3 separate regions of the Homo sapiens genome follow, and regions 2 and 3 are each linked to region 1. Evidence: fine-mapped expression QTL. A gene starts in region 1. Each other region holds a variant in brackets. All regions are shown on one strand. Distances are from middle to middle. Region 1 holds the start of STX18 (syntaxin 18). Region 2 overlaps STX18 (syntaxin 18). Region 3 overlaps STX18 (syntaxin 18).

What was found.
Region 2: its variant is fine-mapped to the expression of STX18 in tibial nerve (GTEx, PIP above 0.99).
Region 3: its variant is fine-mapped to the expression of STX18 in skeletal muscle (GTEx, PIP 0.91).

Annotation. Positions count from the first base shown.
Region 1 is chr4:4,538,692-4,544,228 of GRCh38, reverse strand. It overlaps STX18 (syntaxin 18), which reads left to right and starts at 2,181. Exons shown (of 11, transcript NM_016930.4): 1 at 2,181-2,432. The coding sequence starts at 2,265. LOC124900165 reads right to left here and starts at 2,098. Exons shown (of 6, transcript XM_047416490.1): 1 at 1,754-2,098. STX18-AS1 (STX18 antisense RNA 1 (head to head)) reads right to left here and starts at 2,098. Exons shown (of 6, transcript NR_037888.1): 1 at 1,754-2,098. RefSeq lists enhancers at 2,013-2,307, 2,032-2,311.
Region 2 is chr4:4,420,538-4,426,072 of GRCh38, reverse strand. It overlaps STX18 (syntaxin 18), which reads left to right. Exons shown (of 11, transcript NM_016930.4): 8 at 851-909; 9 at 2,486-2,555; 10 at 5,129-5,209. Among named protein-coding and RNA genes, the nearest start is that of NSG1, 36 kb to the right of the region's middle. The variant T/C (reference allele first, on the strand shown) is at 2,584.
Region 3 is chr4:4,431,395-4,436,931 of GRCh38, reverse strand. STX18 (syntaxin 18) reads left to right here. Exons shown (of 11, transcript NM_016930.4): 7 at 2,074-2,162. Among named protein-coding and RNA genes, the nearest start is that of NSG1, 47 kb to the right of the region's middle. The variant T/A (reference allele first, on the strand shown) is at 2,142.

The DNA.
Region 1 (5,537 bases):
GCACCAAACACACGGTTTACACAAGGCACCACTCACTGAAGGCTTGGTGTAGTTCAGCCTCCCTCCCACTCAAAGATCCTTCCCAGTTACCTACTTTGTACTTTCCCGGCCCCCTCCCTGGGTTCTGGCTTCTCTTTTCTTCCCCCCAATTCAATCCCCCTCACTTTATTATGCAGGGCAATCTCTCTTTCCTTCTACTCTACCCCAGGCTTAACTTTGCATGGCCAAAAACTGATTAATGTCTGGATTAAACAAAGGGCCATTTATGCAAGATAGAATCATTGGCAGAGATTTTGTAATTTCTTTCTCTTTTCCTCAGTAGGTGGAAGAAAGCTGTATGGAAATTTATTTTCCTTAAACTGCAAGAAGTGGCTACAGTTTGGGTTTAAATAATCTTTTCCTGGCCGGGCGCGGTGGCTCACGCCTGTAATCCCAGCATTTTGGGAGGCTGAGGCAGGCGGATCACGAGGTCAGGAGATCGAGACCATCCTGGCTAACACGGTGAAACCCCATCTCTACTAAAAATACAAAAGAATTAGCCAGGCGTGGCGGTGGGCGCCTGTAGTCCCAGCTACTCGGGAGACTGAGGCAGGAGAATGGCGTGAACCCGGGAGGCGGAGCTTGCTCCAGCCTGGGCGACAGAGCAAGACTCCGCCTCAAAGAAAAAAAAAATCTTTTCCTTCCTCCTTTCTGGTAAATATATACTTTCTTGACATCTATTTCTGATAAACTTTATTTTTTTAACACAGTGGTTCTCAAACTTTTGGTCTCAACTCTTTTGCACACTTAAAAATTATTAAGGGCTCTAAACAATTTTGGTTTATATTGACATTATCGACATTTACTATATGAGAAATCAAAACAAAAACTTGATGTTTTTGAAAGTCTTTTTTTGGAGTCTGGCTTAATAGAAAACAGCTGTTCTGCATTTACTCCGTTGCAATATCACAGTCTCCAGCAAACTCAACTGTATGCAACTCATAAGAAAATCAGAGCGAAAAGGCAAATAACATCTTAGTATTGTGAAAATTTTATCTTGATGACCATTAAAACTGCTGTTTTAATACATATTCTACTTGTGCTTCCTCTTTATGAAAAAAGAAATCTTGAAGAAATCAATGAGATTTTGAATTAAAACTGAACCATAGGCCAGGCACGGTTGCACGTGCCTATAGTCCCAGCTACTCAGGAGGCTGAGTCCGGGAGGATCGTTTGAGCCCTGGCGTTCCAGCTGTAGTGAGCTAGGATGGCGCCTCTGACTAGCCACTGCAATCCAGCCTGGGCAACATAGTAGACCCCCGTCTCAAAAAACAACACAAAACAGAACATGAACCTAAAATGCAGAAGAAACTCATTGATTGAGTTGTCAATTTTAATAGCTATGGCTCAAGACGGTACAATTAAAAACTATGCATGAAGGATGAAGAGAATCCAGCGGCATTAGGGCCACTCTTTCACCTTTGTCTCCATCTAAACTTCCTATTCATCCTTCAAATCTCTGCACAGGTGACGCCTTTTCTCTAAAGCCTCTTCCTTTACCACAAATAACAGTGATTATAATAATAACATTATTAACGATTACTACCATTTATTGGCCACTTACTAGGAGCCAAGCAACATCAAAACACAGCACGCGTCAGCTCACTTAATTTTCACAGTAAACCCCGAGGAGGATGCTGGCTTCACTTTAAAAAGAGGTGACTGAAGGTTGGAGAAGAAAGGCCTCTGGCCTCTAGCTCTGTGCCTTGCACACCTGATCTGTCTCAGCATTTATTGCATCCCGAGGGTCACCGTCCACGTGCCTCTATCCTGCTCAAGGTGAGTTCTTGCAGTCAAAGGTCAAGGGTGGCTCGTCTCCACTTCCCCCGCAACCAAACCGCCCGGTCTCAGTGAGGGAGCCGCCAGAAGGGAAGGAGCCTCCTAGCTTCCCGGTCCTCACGCTCCCGGAGCCCACACGCCCCAAACAGACACAGAAGAGCTCGCTGAGCTCTCCGCGCAGCTAAACCCTCCAAGCTTTGCTGGGAGAAACCGATGCCCGAGAGCGCGTCGCGAGGTTCCTCCTCCGCCAGGTGCGCCGGCTGAGGCCGGAACCTTTTTCCTCCCGCCGCGGTAGCAGGGCGCAGGCCGGAACCTTTCTTCTCGCGTCGCCGTTGCCGGGGGGAGGCGTGTGGGGCAGGACCAGTCCTTCAGCGGCCGGGTTCGCGCCGCGGTCGCCGGCTGCTTACGTGGGCGGGCCTAGTGTGGGGCTGAGGGTGCGGGTCGCTATGGCGGTGGACATCACGCTGCTATTCCGGGCCAGCGTCAAGACCGTGAAGACGCGGAACAAGGCGCTGGGAGTGGCGGTGGGCGGCGGGGTCGATGGCAGCCGGGACGAGCTGTTCCGCCGGAGCCCCCGGCCCAAGGGCGACTTCTCCAGCCGGGCCCGCGAAGTGGTGAGCTGGTTGCTATGGAAACGGCGGGTTGAGGAGGGGGCAGTCCTGCGACAGGGACCCCGGGCCCCAAACCAGACCCCGTCCCGTAAGCATTGTGTGAAGGGGGTGGCTCTAAGGGGGACAGAAGAGTTGGCCTCAGAGACCCTACAGCTTTTTGGGGGAAGGAACAGCCTTATTTTGAGGAAGGGGGACGCATATTGGGGAACAGATTTCTCCTGCGGCGACAGGGATTGGGGGACAAGAAAGGAGATCCTCAGAAATCTCTATCTGGAAAGTGCATGGGCGGCTTTGTGAGGTCATGAGTTCGCCGTCACTACAGACTTGCACTCAGGGGAAACCTCCTGACAGTCCTTCGCTTCCTGTTGCAGCACTGACCACACCATATTTGCCTGTTCTATTTACTTGTCTGCCTCCCACCCCTAGTTGAGATTAAAAACTGTATTCAGCCGAACTCTTTCTTCCCTTTGTCTCTGCAATAAGTAGGACTCAGTTCCTCTTGAGACGGGTTTAGGGTAATCTTTCGCAAACACAGTGTTACAGTCACCTCAACTACTTTCTGTTCCCTGATCAGAGCAGGTGTCCCTTCATCTCCCTGGGAACAGGAACCTTTTCCTTAAGGGCAGGGACAGTGTTGTTTTCATCTCAGAATGCATGACTCATAGCATTGCTTAGTAAATGTTTGTTGAATGAGTGAATGAACAAATGGCTGTCTTTCCCATTAAACAGAAAACTCCATAAGGGGAGAGCTGTTTGTCTTGTTCCCTTTTGTGTTCGTGACACCAAGGAGGTATCTAGGTTTTGTGGGGCCTACAGCTTATATAGTTCTGTCTGCCCTCTTCAAGAAATAAAAATCACCAAGAAAGATTCAGAGCTTTGGAAGATTGAAGAGAGGGACCCTAAAGCTTAAGCCTCATTAATTTCACAGTAAATCCTTCTCTGCTTGGCATACACTTGGCACTGTATAGACACTCAGATATTTTTGAATGAATGTAGTCATGCATGCATTAATGACAGTTAGCAGAGGATACTTAAACATTAGAAAGGGGATTGGACCAGATGAATACACTCGCCCTATTGATGACCGTCTATGAAGCACCTACCTTCTGACCAGCCTCGTGTTAGAGTAATATGATGTAAAAGCAGTGGTGGAGTAGACGGACATAGACATAAAACAAGTGCCATAAAGCCTTGCAGGTGTTGTGTAGGGCACAAAAAGAATGTGGTCAGTTCTACCTGAGGACCAGAAAAGGCTTTATAGAGGCGATGATGCCTAAAACAAATCTTGAAAGAGGATTAGTTGGTTCCAGTGCAGAAGGACATCTCAGGCTAAGAGAATAGTATGCGCTAAGCTGTGGAGGTAGGTAACAGTCTGACATAAGTTGGTTCAATAAACATTTGAGTGAGACTGGAATGTGGGACTCTCATAAAAATTGGACGCGGAGATCTTAAAGGGCTTTGTGTATCATTGCAGAGTTTGAATTTTGCCCTGTAGATGGTCAGATGTTATCTGGTAGAGAAAGCACCAGAGAAGGAGCCAAGAGACGAGGTTGTTGTCTGAACCCTGCAACTATTAGCTATATGATTTCATTAAGCAAGTTTTAAGACCTCAGTTTATTTACCTGTAAATGGTCCTTTTTTTCTCCTCCTCCTTTTAAAAAACTACCTTGGTCCTCTATATGTAACAAATTAAAGTGGGAGCTTCCTAGGTTGAAATAAGAGGAAGAGAAACAGGACACTCTCCCTCCCAGTTTGGCCCAAGCACTTCTTGAGATTCCTTTTGTAGAACTGTGGTATGAATATCACAGTATTGGCTTTTTAAGGGTCCCTTCTAACTCTGAAACCACTGATTTATTAACACTGTGCTAATTTTGAGTCCTGCTCAGGGAAAGGGGGGATTTGGGAATGGTAGAGACAGGAGGCACAGTTGGGTTGGCAAGCCCTTTGGAGAGCCCTGTGATCACTTCCACCTCTCCCTGAGTGGTGAAAATGTGTTTGAGTTTTGAGTTAATGGGCCTCAGGGACAGTAACAGTCCCATAGGGTGCTGAGTTCCCTGTCACTGGAAGTGATTAAACAGAGTGATGACTGCTTTTCAGAGATGTTTGAGAAAAGCTTTGTGCATATGTCACAGGGTTGGACCGCATGACAATGCAACTTGCAGTTCTGCTATGTATTGATGTGAGTAGGTGTCACATCACCTTAAGTGAGTTCATGGGCTGTGTTGTTCAGGGACACTGTCCCCCTGACGTAGAGGAAACATACATTCTTTTAAGCAATTTTGATTTTATGTTGTCATTGCTTTGTGTATTATCTCCTGTTCTTGCAACCGTTCCCCACTCCCCATCTTCTCTTGTGGGAAGTTTAACTAGAAGAGCTAGTGATGGATGTCCTGTGCTTTTACTACAATTAGATGTCAAAAGTTTGGCTGTTATTTTGTTTGGCCTGGATTCCTTATAGAGAAAAGTCTGGTAAATACCAGAAGCACATATTCTAATTCAGGTTTAGCCCTGGTTGTCAGACTTAATGAAATGTAATAAGTTATAGTATGCCTTTTGGTAAGTGCCTTCCTTGAAGCATTTGCTGTTACTTCTAGGATGCGTTTTATCTGGTTCAATTTCTATTCTTCCATTCCATTCCTCAAATATATGCCTGATGCCAGATTTCCATCTCACTGAATTGTTGTAGAGGTTATATTAAGTTGAATAAAATTGCATTGAAACTGCAATTTTATTGCAGTCCCTACCTTCCAACAACAGGCTGATTGCTTCTGCATCATTCTTTTAAACATTTAACTTTTATGCTCAATTTTACTAAATTTATATATACTCAAATGCATGTCTACCCATTAAATTACAAATGGAGAGTAACGACTTTTCAGATTATTTGGGGGAGGAACTTATATTATTCGAACAACTCCAAATAATAATGAATATGTCACTCTGCAATGGGAATTTGATTAGTTAACTCATTTGAAGTGTGGGACTAGTGAGGATGATGGGATTGGAAAGAGACCTGGGCCTTGGGTTCAAATCTCGCTTCTGCTACTTAGAAATGGGTGAACTTGGGCAAGTCTGACTCTCGTTTTCCATTTCTATAAAGTGGACGTG
Region 2 (5,535 bases), 120 kb after region 1:
GGGGCCTGCGGGATGCATCGGGGAGGAAATGCAGGACGCCCCTGACTCCCTGCACATTGCGGGAGTTGAGTGGACACACGAGGACAGGGCTGTGGGGGCCTGCAGTGAGGGCAAGGAGCTGTTCCTGTCCATTCTCTGTGCTGAGTTTCAGGAGCTTCCATCCTTTTCTTTGGCCCATATCAAACTGGCAAGAATGGCTGGGAGAGCAACTGTCTGTGCCAAGCTCACTCAGCTCCAAGAAGCTCCCATGTATCCCTGGTGTCAGGGCACCCGTCCTCACCCAGCCTGAGCACTGGGAAACACGCTCCTCTGGCTCTGGGCCTCTGTCCCTGTTGAGCAGTGGAGTGGCCAGGCTCTGAAGTCAGAGGGGCCCAGAGGCAGCTCGGCCAAGCTGCCCACCTCCCCTTCCTCTCCAGACCCTCCCCACACCAGATCCTTCTCCATATTAAAAAATATGTATAGTCCTTCAGTATAGTTCATGAGAGAAAACAACAACAAAAGAATTTTCTTAATAATGGTACTAGAGTCAGGAAGCAGGCCGTGGGATCCCAGGGGAGAGCGGGTAGGTAGATACAGCTACAGCCATAGCAGTCAGCTTGTACCCCTGGAGTGCAGTGGTTGAGATGGAGAAGTCAATTACCAGGCAGCACAGCTGTTTTTTAAAACTTTCTCCTGAAAGCAGGGACGTTGTTCACACTAATGCTAACGGTCGTCCAGCACCGGCTGCCACGTTGCCGCAGCTGGAAATGGGGGCTTCGGCAGTGATTCCTGGAGCGTAGGTCCGCTTTCTTGCTAGACTCTTGCCTAAGTTCAGTATGATGTCATCCTGAGTGTGTCTGTTTCCTCACAGTTTGAACAGGAAAATCAGCGACTAATTGGTGAAATGAACAGCTTGTTTGATGAAGTGAGGTATGTTTGTAGCTCCTCTGTGAGCTGATAGCCTGCTTTACAACTTTTCCAGGAACTAGGAACTTTATTTACCTTGGTGCCCAGGCATCCCCATGGGGCCCTTGGGCTGGTGCAGCCCCCCTCAGCCATTTTGACTGGGCTGGGGTGGGCATGTGGCCTGAATCCACAACTCCCTCAGCTTGTGGGCCTGTGGGTTACCTCCTGCCTGCTGCCACTGCTGCGGGGGGCCCAGGTGCTTCCCACCCCGAGAGATACAGGAGTGACTACAGATTACCTGCGTATAATTTCCACCACCATTCGGGCTGTTTCCACGCAGCGACTCTGAAATGAAATGGGGCCCTTATGAAGGGCAGCTAACCAAGGGAAGCCCTCTTCTGCAAATGGTTCCACTGGGGTCTGCCTGCTCCTGTACCCACCAGGGAGTCAGGAATGCAGAAGGCAAGGCCTTGGTCACTCACACATGCACCCGTTAGCCTCTAGTTTCTGTGGGAAGGCTTGGAGCATGCTGAAAGTAAGGCCCAGGACTTTGCAGAGCCTGTTGTATTGTGGACATGTCCCCCAAATAAAATCAATCCTGATGCTGCACTCACACAGCCTGAGGACTTTCTCAGTGTAGGTGTCAGCCTCCAAGGGGCTCTTCGCCTTCTGCCCTCAGAGATGGACCTCCTAGTCCTCCTCTGACAGCCTAGCTTTCACTGTCTGCCCCACTACCGCCCCCACCCCGCTACTCCCCCATGCCCAGATACTCACTGGCTTTTCTTCCCACATCTCCTCCCCTGCCCCCTGCCACTGTGATACTGTTGGGATTCATCACTGCTTCCACCTGGCCAGGAGCTCAGCTCCCACCACTTTTTGCCTCCTGTCACTTCCTGTCGCTGCTTTGTGCTGGAACAGCAGTTGACTTCAGCTTGGGCCAGCTTCTGTTTCTAAATAGATGTGCCCCCACCCGCCCCCCAGGGTAGCCCATGCTGCCCCTGACACCAGGAAGATGGCTAGCCCAAGTGTTTCAGATCCGACAGAACACTCCGTTGCCAAACCAAGACATGGCATTTTCTAAATGAATCAGAGGAGCTTTTTTCTTGGAACAGGGAGTTGGTTTGAAGGTAAATACACTTTTTTCTTTAACCTGCTGAGCATTAACAAAGCTGGATCATCAGCATATTCTGACCTTCTGAATCCCCACCATGTGTTACCATGGTGATGAGGCTAGGCAGAGAACTTACTGGAGACTGCTTTCTGTAACTGGGGCACAACCAGGCCCTCCCCATTCCCCGAGCAGTGACACAGAATGCAAAGGGCACTGCACACACCCACCTCTTGGGACTGAGGGTCAGTTGGCATGGTAGAGTGGACTTCCAAAAAGACCAGTGTGCTAGGCTATGCCAGAAGACAGGGAAGGTGACCCAGTAAGGAGAGTTCGCCTTCCTCTCCCATCTCCTCTTCCCCCAGCCGACACAGTGTGCCCCCTGTCTCTCCCACCTTCACGTAGAAGATAGGATTTCTTTAGAAGTGTGTAACAGTCCTGTTAGATTACCAAGTGCTAATAGTTAATATGTAATCTGTTCTTTTTATGAAGGCAAATCGAAGGGAGAGTGGTTGAGATTTCCAGACTCCAAGAGATATTCACGGAAAAGGTTTTGCAACAGGTAAAAAAACAAAAACAAAGGAGCTGTA[T/C]GTTTTCACTCAAAGGGGAATGTACTTGAGAGCACGAGACATTTTTCCCAAAGGCTGCTGCTCTACACAGCCAGGAGCAGAGCCATGTGTTGCTAGCAGGTGTGTGTGCGCAGAGCTCCTCAGGGAAAAGCTCTCACTACCCAGAGCTGCCTCTGCACACGTGTGATGGAGGAGGAGCTCCCCACAGGGGACCCACTGACCACCCCATGTGGTAGCACATGCGGTGGCACGTGGGAGGAGAGTCCAGGCCTGGCAGTCAGGGTTCTGGATGTGCTGGGTAAGCTAGGTAGCCCCCACAAGCTACAGTTTCCCATCTATAGGAGGGAGGGACTCCTGCAGGGTTATTCTCTGTTTGAGAGATAACTGCAGAAGCATCCAGCACGATGCTGACGGGCAGTTGCTTTTCAGTCAGTAGGTTACAGGAGCTCAGACCCAGGCCTCTCACAACGCGCGGTCCATGCCACCTCAGGGATGGTGTCTGCGTGGGAAATAGGATTGTTCTTTTCAAGTGAATTTTCTGAAATTCTTCCAGCCAATAACTGGCAAAACTTTTCAAGACCTGATAAATTTGCCCTTTTATTTTTAGCATCCAAAGACTATGGGAACGTTTGAAAGACAAAATTTTCTCCAGTATTTTAAACTGGACTACTTGACTTAAGATACTTCACTCACAAAATGACTTTCCATAAACCACACAGCCAGAGTGAAATCATTGTAAATGAGGTACATTAAGTCTAACAGTGGTTTGCAAGTTCGGGTTCATAGGAGTCGCCCTTTTTAATAACACTACCCTGCTTCAAACCTCCCAGCGGCTCCAGGGGGCCTGGGAGGGGCGTGCAGAGCATAGGCAGAGCCTTGCCTTGGCTCACCGGGAGTTTCTTTTTCTTTTCTTTTTTTTTCTTTTTCTTTTTTTTTTTTTTGGAGACAGAGTCTTGCTGTGTCGCCCAGGCTGGAGTGCAATGTTGCTATCTTGGCTCACTGCAACCTCATCCTCCCAGGTTCAAGCGATTCTCCTGCCTCAGTCAGCCTCTTGAGTAGCTGGGATTACAGGCATGCCACCACGCCTGGCTAATTTTGGTATTTTTAGTAAAGACGGGGTTTCACCATCTTGGCCAGGCTGGTCCCGAACTCCTGACTTCAGGTGATCCACCTGCCTTGGCCTCCCAAAGTGCTGGGATTACAGACGAGAGCCACTGCGCCCGGCCCACTGGGAGTTCCTAAGTCCTGAGGAACAATGTGTCTTTCTTGTTTTTTCCATCAGTGTTGCATTGTAGTTCATATTGATTCTCTCATTGGAACCTTGGCAGTGGTCACTTAGTTCACACTTTGAGACTCTCTAAAAAGGGGTGATGATGAGGCAAAGCCATCCCAGTAATATTCATTGCTGGGAATCAGAGGCCACATGCTGCCTTCCTCCCTACAATGTGTCAGTCAGGTTTCTCTAAAAACCCACGCTAGCATTCATTCTGCCCTGACCCTGTTAGGAAGCAGCTTCACCACCACCGAAAGGAGGAGAGAAGCAGGCACTCCTGCTTGTAAGGACGTCTAGCACCGTCTCTGCTCCTGTGGGGCCAGACGCCCCCTGTGTTATCCCACGCTTCTCAAGCTTTTCAAGGCTTCGTTTGGAGTAAACGTTTTCTGTAAGCATCCTGCATCCTATTTTGATTTTTAAATTTTAGCCTGTTTTTTAAGAGATATGATGATAGTAAAACACAAAGCACTATTTTTGAAGCTAGCATATGTATTTCGAAGCACATACATTTTAAAGCTTACTTCTGTGGACTTCAGAAAGAAATGAGAGACTAGAAGGGAAGCCCCTGGCATATGGTGGCTGCTCCACAAACAATAGCTCTTAGGTTTTTGTCCGTCACCGGCGAGTGGCGCAGGAGGGATGGTAAGTGTGGCGGAAGGAGCACTGCAACAAGATGGGGTCTCAGCCCTGCGCGGTGGCTCATGCCTGTAATCCCAGCACTCTGGGAGGCCGAGGCGGGAGCATGGTGTGAGCTCAAGAGTTCAAGACCAGCCTGGGCAACATAGGGAGACCCCCCATCTCTACAAAAAATTTTAAAAATTTAGCCAGGCGTGGTGGCACATGCCTATACTCCCAGCTACTTGGGAGGCTGAAGTGGGAGGATCGTTTAAGCCCTGTCTCAAAAAAAAAAAAAGTCTCAGTCCTGCCACTTGGTTGCTGTGTGATGTGACTTTGGGCAAGTTAGTAAACTTCTCTGAGCCGTGAGTTTCCGTTTCATAAAATAGAGGTAATACCTACTTCTTGGGGTGCTGTGAGGATTTGTGGCTATGCAAGTAAAGCCGTTAGCCCTTGGTGACGGCTACTGTTCTTGTCATGATATACGCTTCAGGGAGGAGGAAGTGGCTGTATATGTCAAGCATCCCTAAACTTCAAAATGTGAAGTCCTAAGTGCTCCAAAATCTGAAACTTTCTGAGCGCTGACATGACACTCAAAGGAAATGCTCGTTGGAGCATTTTGGGTTTCAGGTTTTTGGATAAAGGATACTCAACTTGTATTTATCTTTTCTTCCACAGGAAGCTGAGATTGACAGCATTCACCAGTTAGTTGTGGGGGCAACTGAAAATATCAAGGAAGGCAACGAAGACATAAGAGAGGTAGGCACTGTTTAGGTTCCCCAGGTGCGACGTGGCGCAGCACTGAGTCCCAGCAGCGGGTGTTAGTCTCGCCGGCACAGCTGCCCAGGAGCCTTGCTGGGCAGAGCTCACGGGGCTGATCACAAAATTGTGTGACCGCGGAGCTGCGTGTGTTCATGAGACCCACCACCTGTCGCCCACCTCCAGCTGCTTTCGAGAGGCAGTGGCTCACCAGCCTCCAAAGGAGCAATCCAGGGTGGGTGGGGGTACTCCTGGCAGGGTCAGGCCAGCTCTTCATGTCCAGGGATGTACATGGGTAGCTCGTTGGCCCCCACCGAGGGGTCAGA
Region 3 (5,537 bases), 110 kb after region 1:
AATAAAAAATGAAAGCTTAGAAAGTTCTAGACAGAGGCAGCAGCATGAGCAAATGCTCAGAGGCCAGAAAGCCTGGAGATTGGGTGGGATATAGTCAGTAAAGAAGACCCGTGGGGATCAGTGAAGCCCATCAGTGGGAGGAGAGGTGGGAGTAAGCTTGGAAGGGTGGGTAGGGCCTTGAATGCCAGAGTAGGGAGTCTGGACTTGCCTCTGTGGCACCAGGGTGCACGGGTGGCCTGGGCAGAGGACTGGCATGGTGGGTGCTGTGCTTCAGGCTGATCCTTAGGGCAGCCTATCAAGAAGGCTTCTGATGGCCACAAATGAGCATGTTGTAGAGTGTGAGTTCTGCTAAGAAAACTTTCCCATTCTAGCTCAGAGTTAATTTATGCTTGGTTCAGATATGAACAAGGTTTCTGTTTCTAATTTTGATGTTTTTTTCCTTAAAAAAGAAATCAACAACAGTAAAAGCTTGAAATGGATACCATAATGAGGACAAGTAGGAGACAGCTCATAAGGTGGGGGTGGGGGGTAGATGAAAGTACAAATGTTCCTACCCAAAGAATGTCATCTCAGGAAAATATCAGATCATTTCTAAAGATACTTTTAGCCAACCTTTTACAAACACATGTTTTTCTATAATGACACTTCTGGTAAAAACAGCCATTTTTCTAAAAGCCTGCATGCACTAAGTTGTGGATGACATGCAGTTTTTTTTGTAAAGATATATTTCTAATAAATAACCATAACTTTCAGGCATGGCCTGCCTAGTGAGCTTTCTCTACATTGTTGCTATCATTACGTTCTCTTCCCCTATTTAAAGATCTGGACTTGTTGCCATCTCATGGGGCTGAGACTGACTACAGGAAATTTACTGAGATTGAGGAAAAAAGGAAAAAGAAGCAGTATTTGCCTTTGAGTACTTGGAAGCTCACTGATAAGCCCTGAGACACAGACACAAAGTGACTTCATTACAGTCTCCCCCGAGGATCCATCCCTGCCATCCCTCTCCCCTCCGCTCCCAACCCTACCCCGGTGATGAACTGCACAGACCTCTTACCGTCATCCTGGGCGGCAGCAGTCCTTTCTAGGGGCCTGTGGTATTGACATGCTTCAATGGAGGATGCATCACCTTTCCTTGATCATAATGAAAAAGTTCTCCAGATTAAAATGTTCCTACGCTCCCTTTCAGCAGTTGCATGCCCAGGTATCTGTCCTAGAGAGTCACTCCAGCATGTGCACATAGCACAGACCGGGACACAGTACCATGACACCAGTGAACAGTCTGAAACCACTGAGGTCTGTCAGCGTAGTTATGGCTAAAGACCAGTGTATCCTCACGATGGAATATCATGCAGCAATTTAAAAGAACAAGGTAGATCTACTTGGACCATCTCCAAGATGTATCAATAAATCATACAAAGCAAGTTTTAGAACAGCATGTTACTATTGATATCTGTGTGAAAAGCAAGCCGCCATACACACAAAACTGTGTATTACTTGAATTTCATGGGTAGACAGGGACTCATATATCTTTGTATGTGAATATCTTTAGATAAAATCTATGAAGCTACATCAAAGCAGTAACATCTGGGAGAGGAATAGGATTGGAGAACAGTATATCACTTCCTGTATATATATATATATGTATGTATATATGCATATGTATTTTTTACAATAAAAATATGTCTTACAGTCTTTAAAAGTAGACAGGGGTGTATGTGTCTTGAAGTAAAACATACTTTAAGACTCATTCTGAAGAATTCTGAAGACATTCTGAATAATGTCCATTTAGTTTGCAGCCATTGCTGACATCAGTGCGATACTGAAACCGTGCATAGGTCCCCCTCCCCATCACACACACACATGCACGTGCCTGCACAAAGACAATTTAAAGCCTAAATGTTGTGAAAGAATCATGTCTGCAGTGCCTGAATATTAGCCCAAAGATCATGAAATATATAGACAAAGCTGTAAGATTCTGTTTAATCTCTTGTTTGTGTTATGACTACATCCTAAGCCAGCCTATTCTAAAACACATATTTGGTCTTCTATTTTCAATTTTTTTTTTAACAGAAAAAATTTTGGCTGAAACACAACCTGAATTGGGAACGTGGGGAGATGGCAAAGGCGAAGATGAGTTA[T/A]CCCCAGAAGAAATACAAATGGTAATGCTATTCTCTGCCTAATTATTTATTTTTAACTGGTTTTCATAAGACTGTTTCACTAAGGAGAAACTCATCCTCAATGCCCTTGCCCTTATTTTTATACTGAGTTTTAAAAATTATAAATGTGTATTTTATATACACTTTCCCATTTGATTTCCTAATTCTTACGGTGCTTTTCATATGCTTTAAATTTGCAGTAGCATAATTAAAGAAGACATTTTGCCTTGGAAGAATTTTACTAATAATAGATGTCTTTTCAACAACAGTAAAATAGTCTTCTAGACTAAATGGGTCTTTTATAAATGCCACTATGATGCTTTTTAATTGTTTGAATTGCTAGTGCTATGGTAATGTGAAAAAAGTAAGATAATGACTGAAAAGTGAAAAGAGTAACACCTTAACTACTGATAGCACCTCCTTTTAGTTACCTGCCTTCTGGTTTCCAGCTGCTATAGCTTACCATCTATGGGTGGGTTTCAAAAGGAACTGATAGGTCTGCCAAGCCCCTGCCAGCTCACGTCCAGCAATGTCTGTGTGCAGCTCATCTGGACACTGGTGTGACAGAAGCCAGATGGAATATGCTATCTGTGTGTGGGAATAGATGTCACCTAGAGCTGCTAGGATGTGACACTGTCCTCTAAGACGTGGGGAATGTGACTACCACACGGCACGCCTCCAGTGACTGTGCCTGGCAAGTGATAGCATTTTAAGTGTGCAGCAGTTTGCAGTAGACAAAACTTTTTGATTCTCATTTTATCCATGATACTTTTAATAATTGCACAAAGAGGTGGTGGAACATTAGCATCTCATTTTAACATTGGCAAAAGGCAGCAAAGGGTCTTGCCCAGAGTCCCCTAGTTAATCAGGGAAGAGCTGGATTTCCAGCCCTCAAGAAGATAAGGAGTGGAGCATGAAGACAGCTCTGTTGAGGAAGAATGGGATCCAGTCTTTCCCCAGCCTTGAGCTTCTCAGACTGAGGCGTTTGTGTTGCTGCTTAAGCCACCTGAAATTTCAAGCTCTCTCTATCCACTCCTGGCATGTCTTACAGGTCTCAGGTATTTTTTCCTCAGACAGACCCGGCAACCCCACCTACAGCAGCTCCCAGATACTGTGTCCCATGACCCTACTTGATTTCCCGCATAGAGCACAAGCTCTGTGAGAGCAGAATCTTGTCTTGTTTTCCTCACCCAGAGCCCAGAACAGTGTTTGGGAATTCTTTTTTTTTTTTTTTTTTTAATTTATTTTTTTTATTGATCATTCTTGGGTGTTTCTCGCAGAGGGGTATTTGGCAGGGTCATAGGACAATAGTGGAGGGAAGGTCAGCAGATAAACAAGTGAACAGAGGTCTCTGGTTTTCCTAGGCAGAGGACCCTGCGGCCTTCCGCAGGGGAATTCTTTGTTGAATGCATGAGTGACTTTGATGAGTATAACATAAAAGCTATAGGTTGTTTTCAATGGTAAAATGGGATCATCAGTAATAACTATTAGAATGTTCTAGTGTTCAGTTATTACTAGTATTATGGATACTTATGAATGCCTTCTCTATCCCAAGCCTTTTACATATGTTGTCCTGTTGAATCTTCATGACAATCCAGTCAAGTAGGAATTATCACTATTACACAGTTGAAGAAAATGACGCACAAAAACTAAAGCCCTACCCAACGTCACAGAACCAGTAGAGCAGCAGAGCCAACCTTTGGCTCCAACCTGTGCTTTTTTTCCAGTTGGTTCTGGTGGTCTAGGCAAGTGTTGCTGCACAGGAGCAGCGTGGCACACTGACACAGGCCAGCCAGGCAGAGAAGTCAGAACAGCCGCGCCGGCCCACCGAAGTGTCATTGTAAGCATAGTTGTGCAGGCTGGGGACCTCCAGGGATGGCCAGGTCCACATGTCTGCTCTCGTGAGCATTGGCCGCCAAGGGCAGAGGACTGGCTCAGCATCCTCTTGCTCTTTGGACTTCCTGTTTCTTCTCCATGCCTGAAATAAAAGACGGAAACCAAATCTCTTTCCTAAAAATGGCATGGACAAGTGAAGACAAAAAAGCCAAAAGGTAGCACAGCCTAGTGGGAACAGTGTACTGTCTGACTGGAGTCCACACGCAGCCTCATCATTGCAGCCCTGGGCCCTCTCACTGCTCTGGACCTCTGTTCCCTCATCTGTGAGATGGGCAAAAAATGGCCACCCCACAGGTGGGGCTAAAGTTTGAGTGAGCTGGCCCATGAGGTGCATGCAACAAAGAGCCAGACACATGGGGTGCTTGAAAAATTCTGTTTCCCCTTCCTTTACCCTTGAGAGTGGCAGGTTGTACAAAGAGGCAGAAGAGCCTCTCCCTGCACAGGATGGAAGAGATTGGGCATAGCTGCCCGTGTGCCATGAGCAGGGAAGGACTGTGGCATGCATGCCATCATGGCAGGGTCAGGGCATGCAGGATGGCAGCTGGAGCTCAGACCATTTTCATATGCCTTTCATATACAATTCAGTTTCACACAGATTTATCCACCCAGATGAGTGGTTTCCCCTTTAAAATCATCGCCTTGAAAGCTTGAAACTGATTCCAGTGATGGTACCATTAGCCCTGACTTTCCTGAGACTTGCTTTGGGGGTTCTCCTTCAGAGCCTGTGATATTTTCTTTGGAATACTAAGCAGAGCTGTCTTTGTCCTTTACAGACAAAAATAATTCTGAACTAAGAAAATGACTCAAACACCTTAAAGTGCCCTGCAAGGTCCTTGCCTTCCTTTCCAGCTTCTTTCATGTTCCAGAATTCACCTTATGACTTGAAATAAGTGCTCACCAAATCCAGCAAATGTGGGACCTAGGCCCTCGAGGTGCACATTGTATAGTCGGTGGTTAGAGGAAGACAGCCGCAGGGATTCCAAGCAGTCATTGCTGTCAGTCAGGTTGAGAGATGAGGAGGGCCTTGAGCCGGGAGTGGCAGTGAAGGTAGTGTTGAGAGCTGTGGTGTAGGAAATGGCCTGCACTGAAGTGTGAGATGAGGAAGGAACCTTGAGCTTTCTGACGTGGGTCATCAGGAGGAGGGAGGGTGCACAGAAGGTGGGCAGGCTGGGGCTGAGCAGGAGATGATGAATTTCATGTAGACAGGTGTGAGTTTGAGGCGCCTGTGGGACATTCATGAGAGGTGTCTATGGGCTCCAGGGCTCGGGCTAGAGAAACGCATGTGGGAGACATCTTACAGCTGATGTTTGAAGGATGGGCTTGCGTGAGGCTCTCTAGAAACATGATGAACAGCGAGAAAGGAGAAGGGGTCATGGACACCACCCTGGGGTACACTCCACTGGAGGGAGGCTGGGGCGGAGAAGCCAACAAAGGAATGTAAAGAGGGATTGGATCATATTCCCGTCCTACAGCCAAATAATG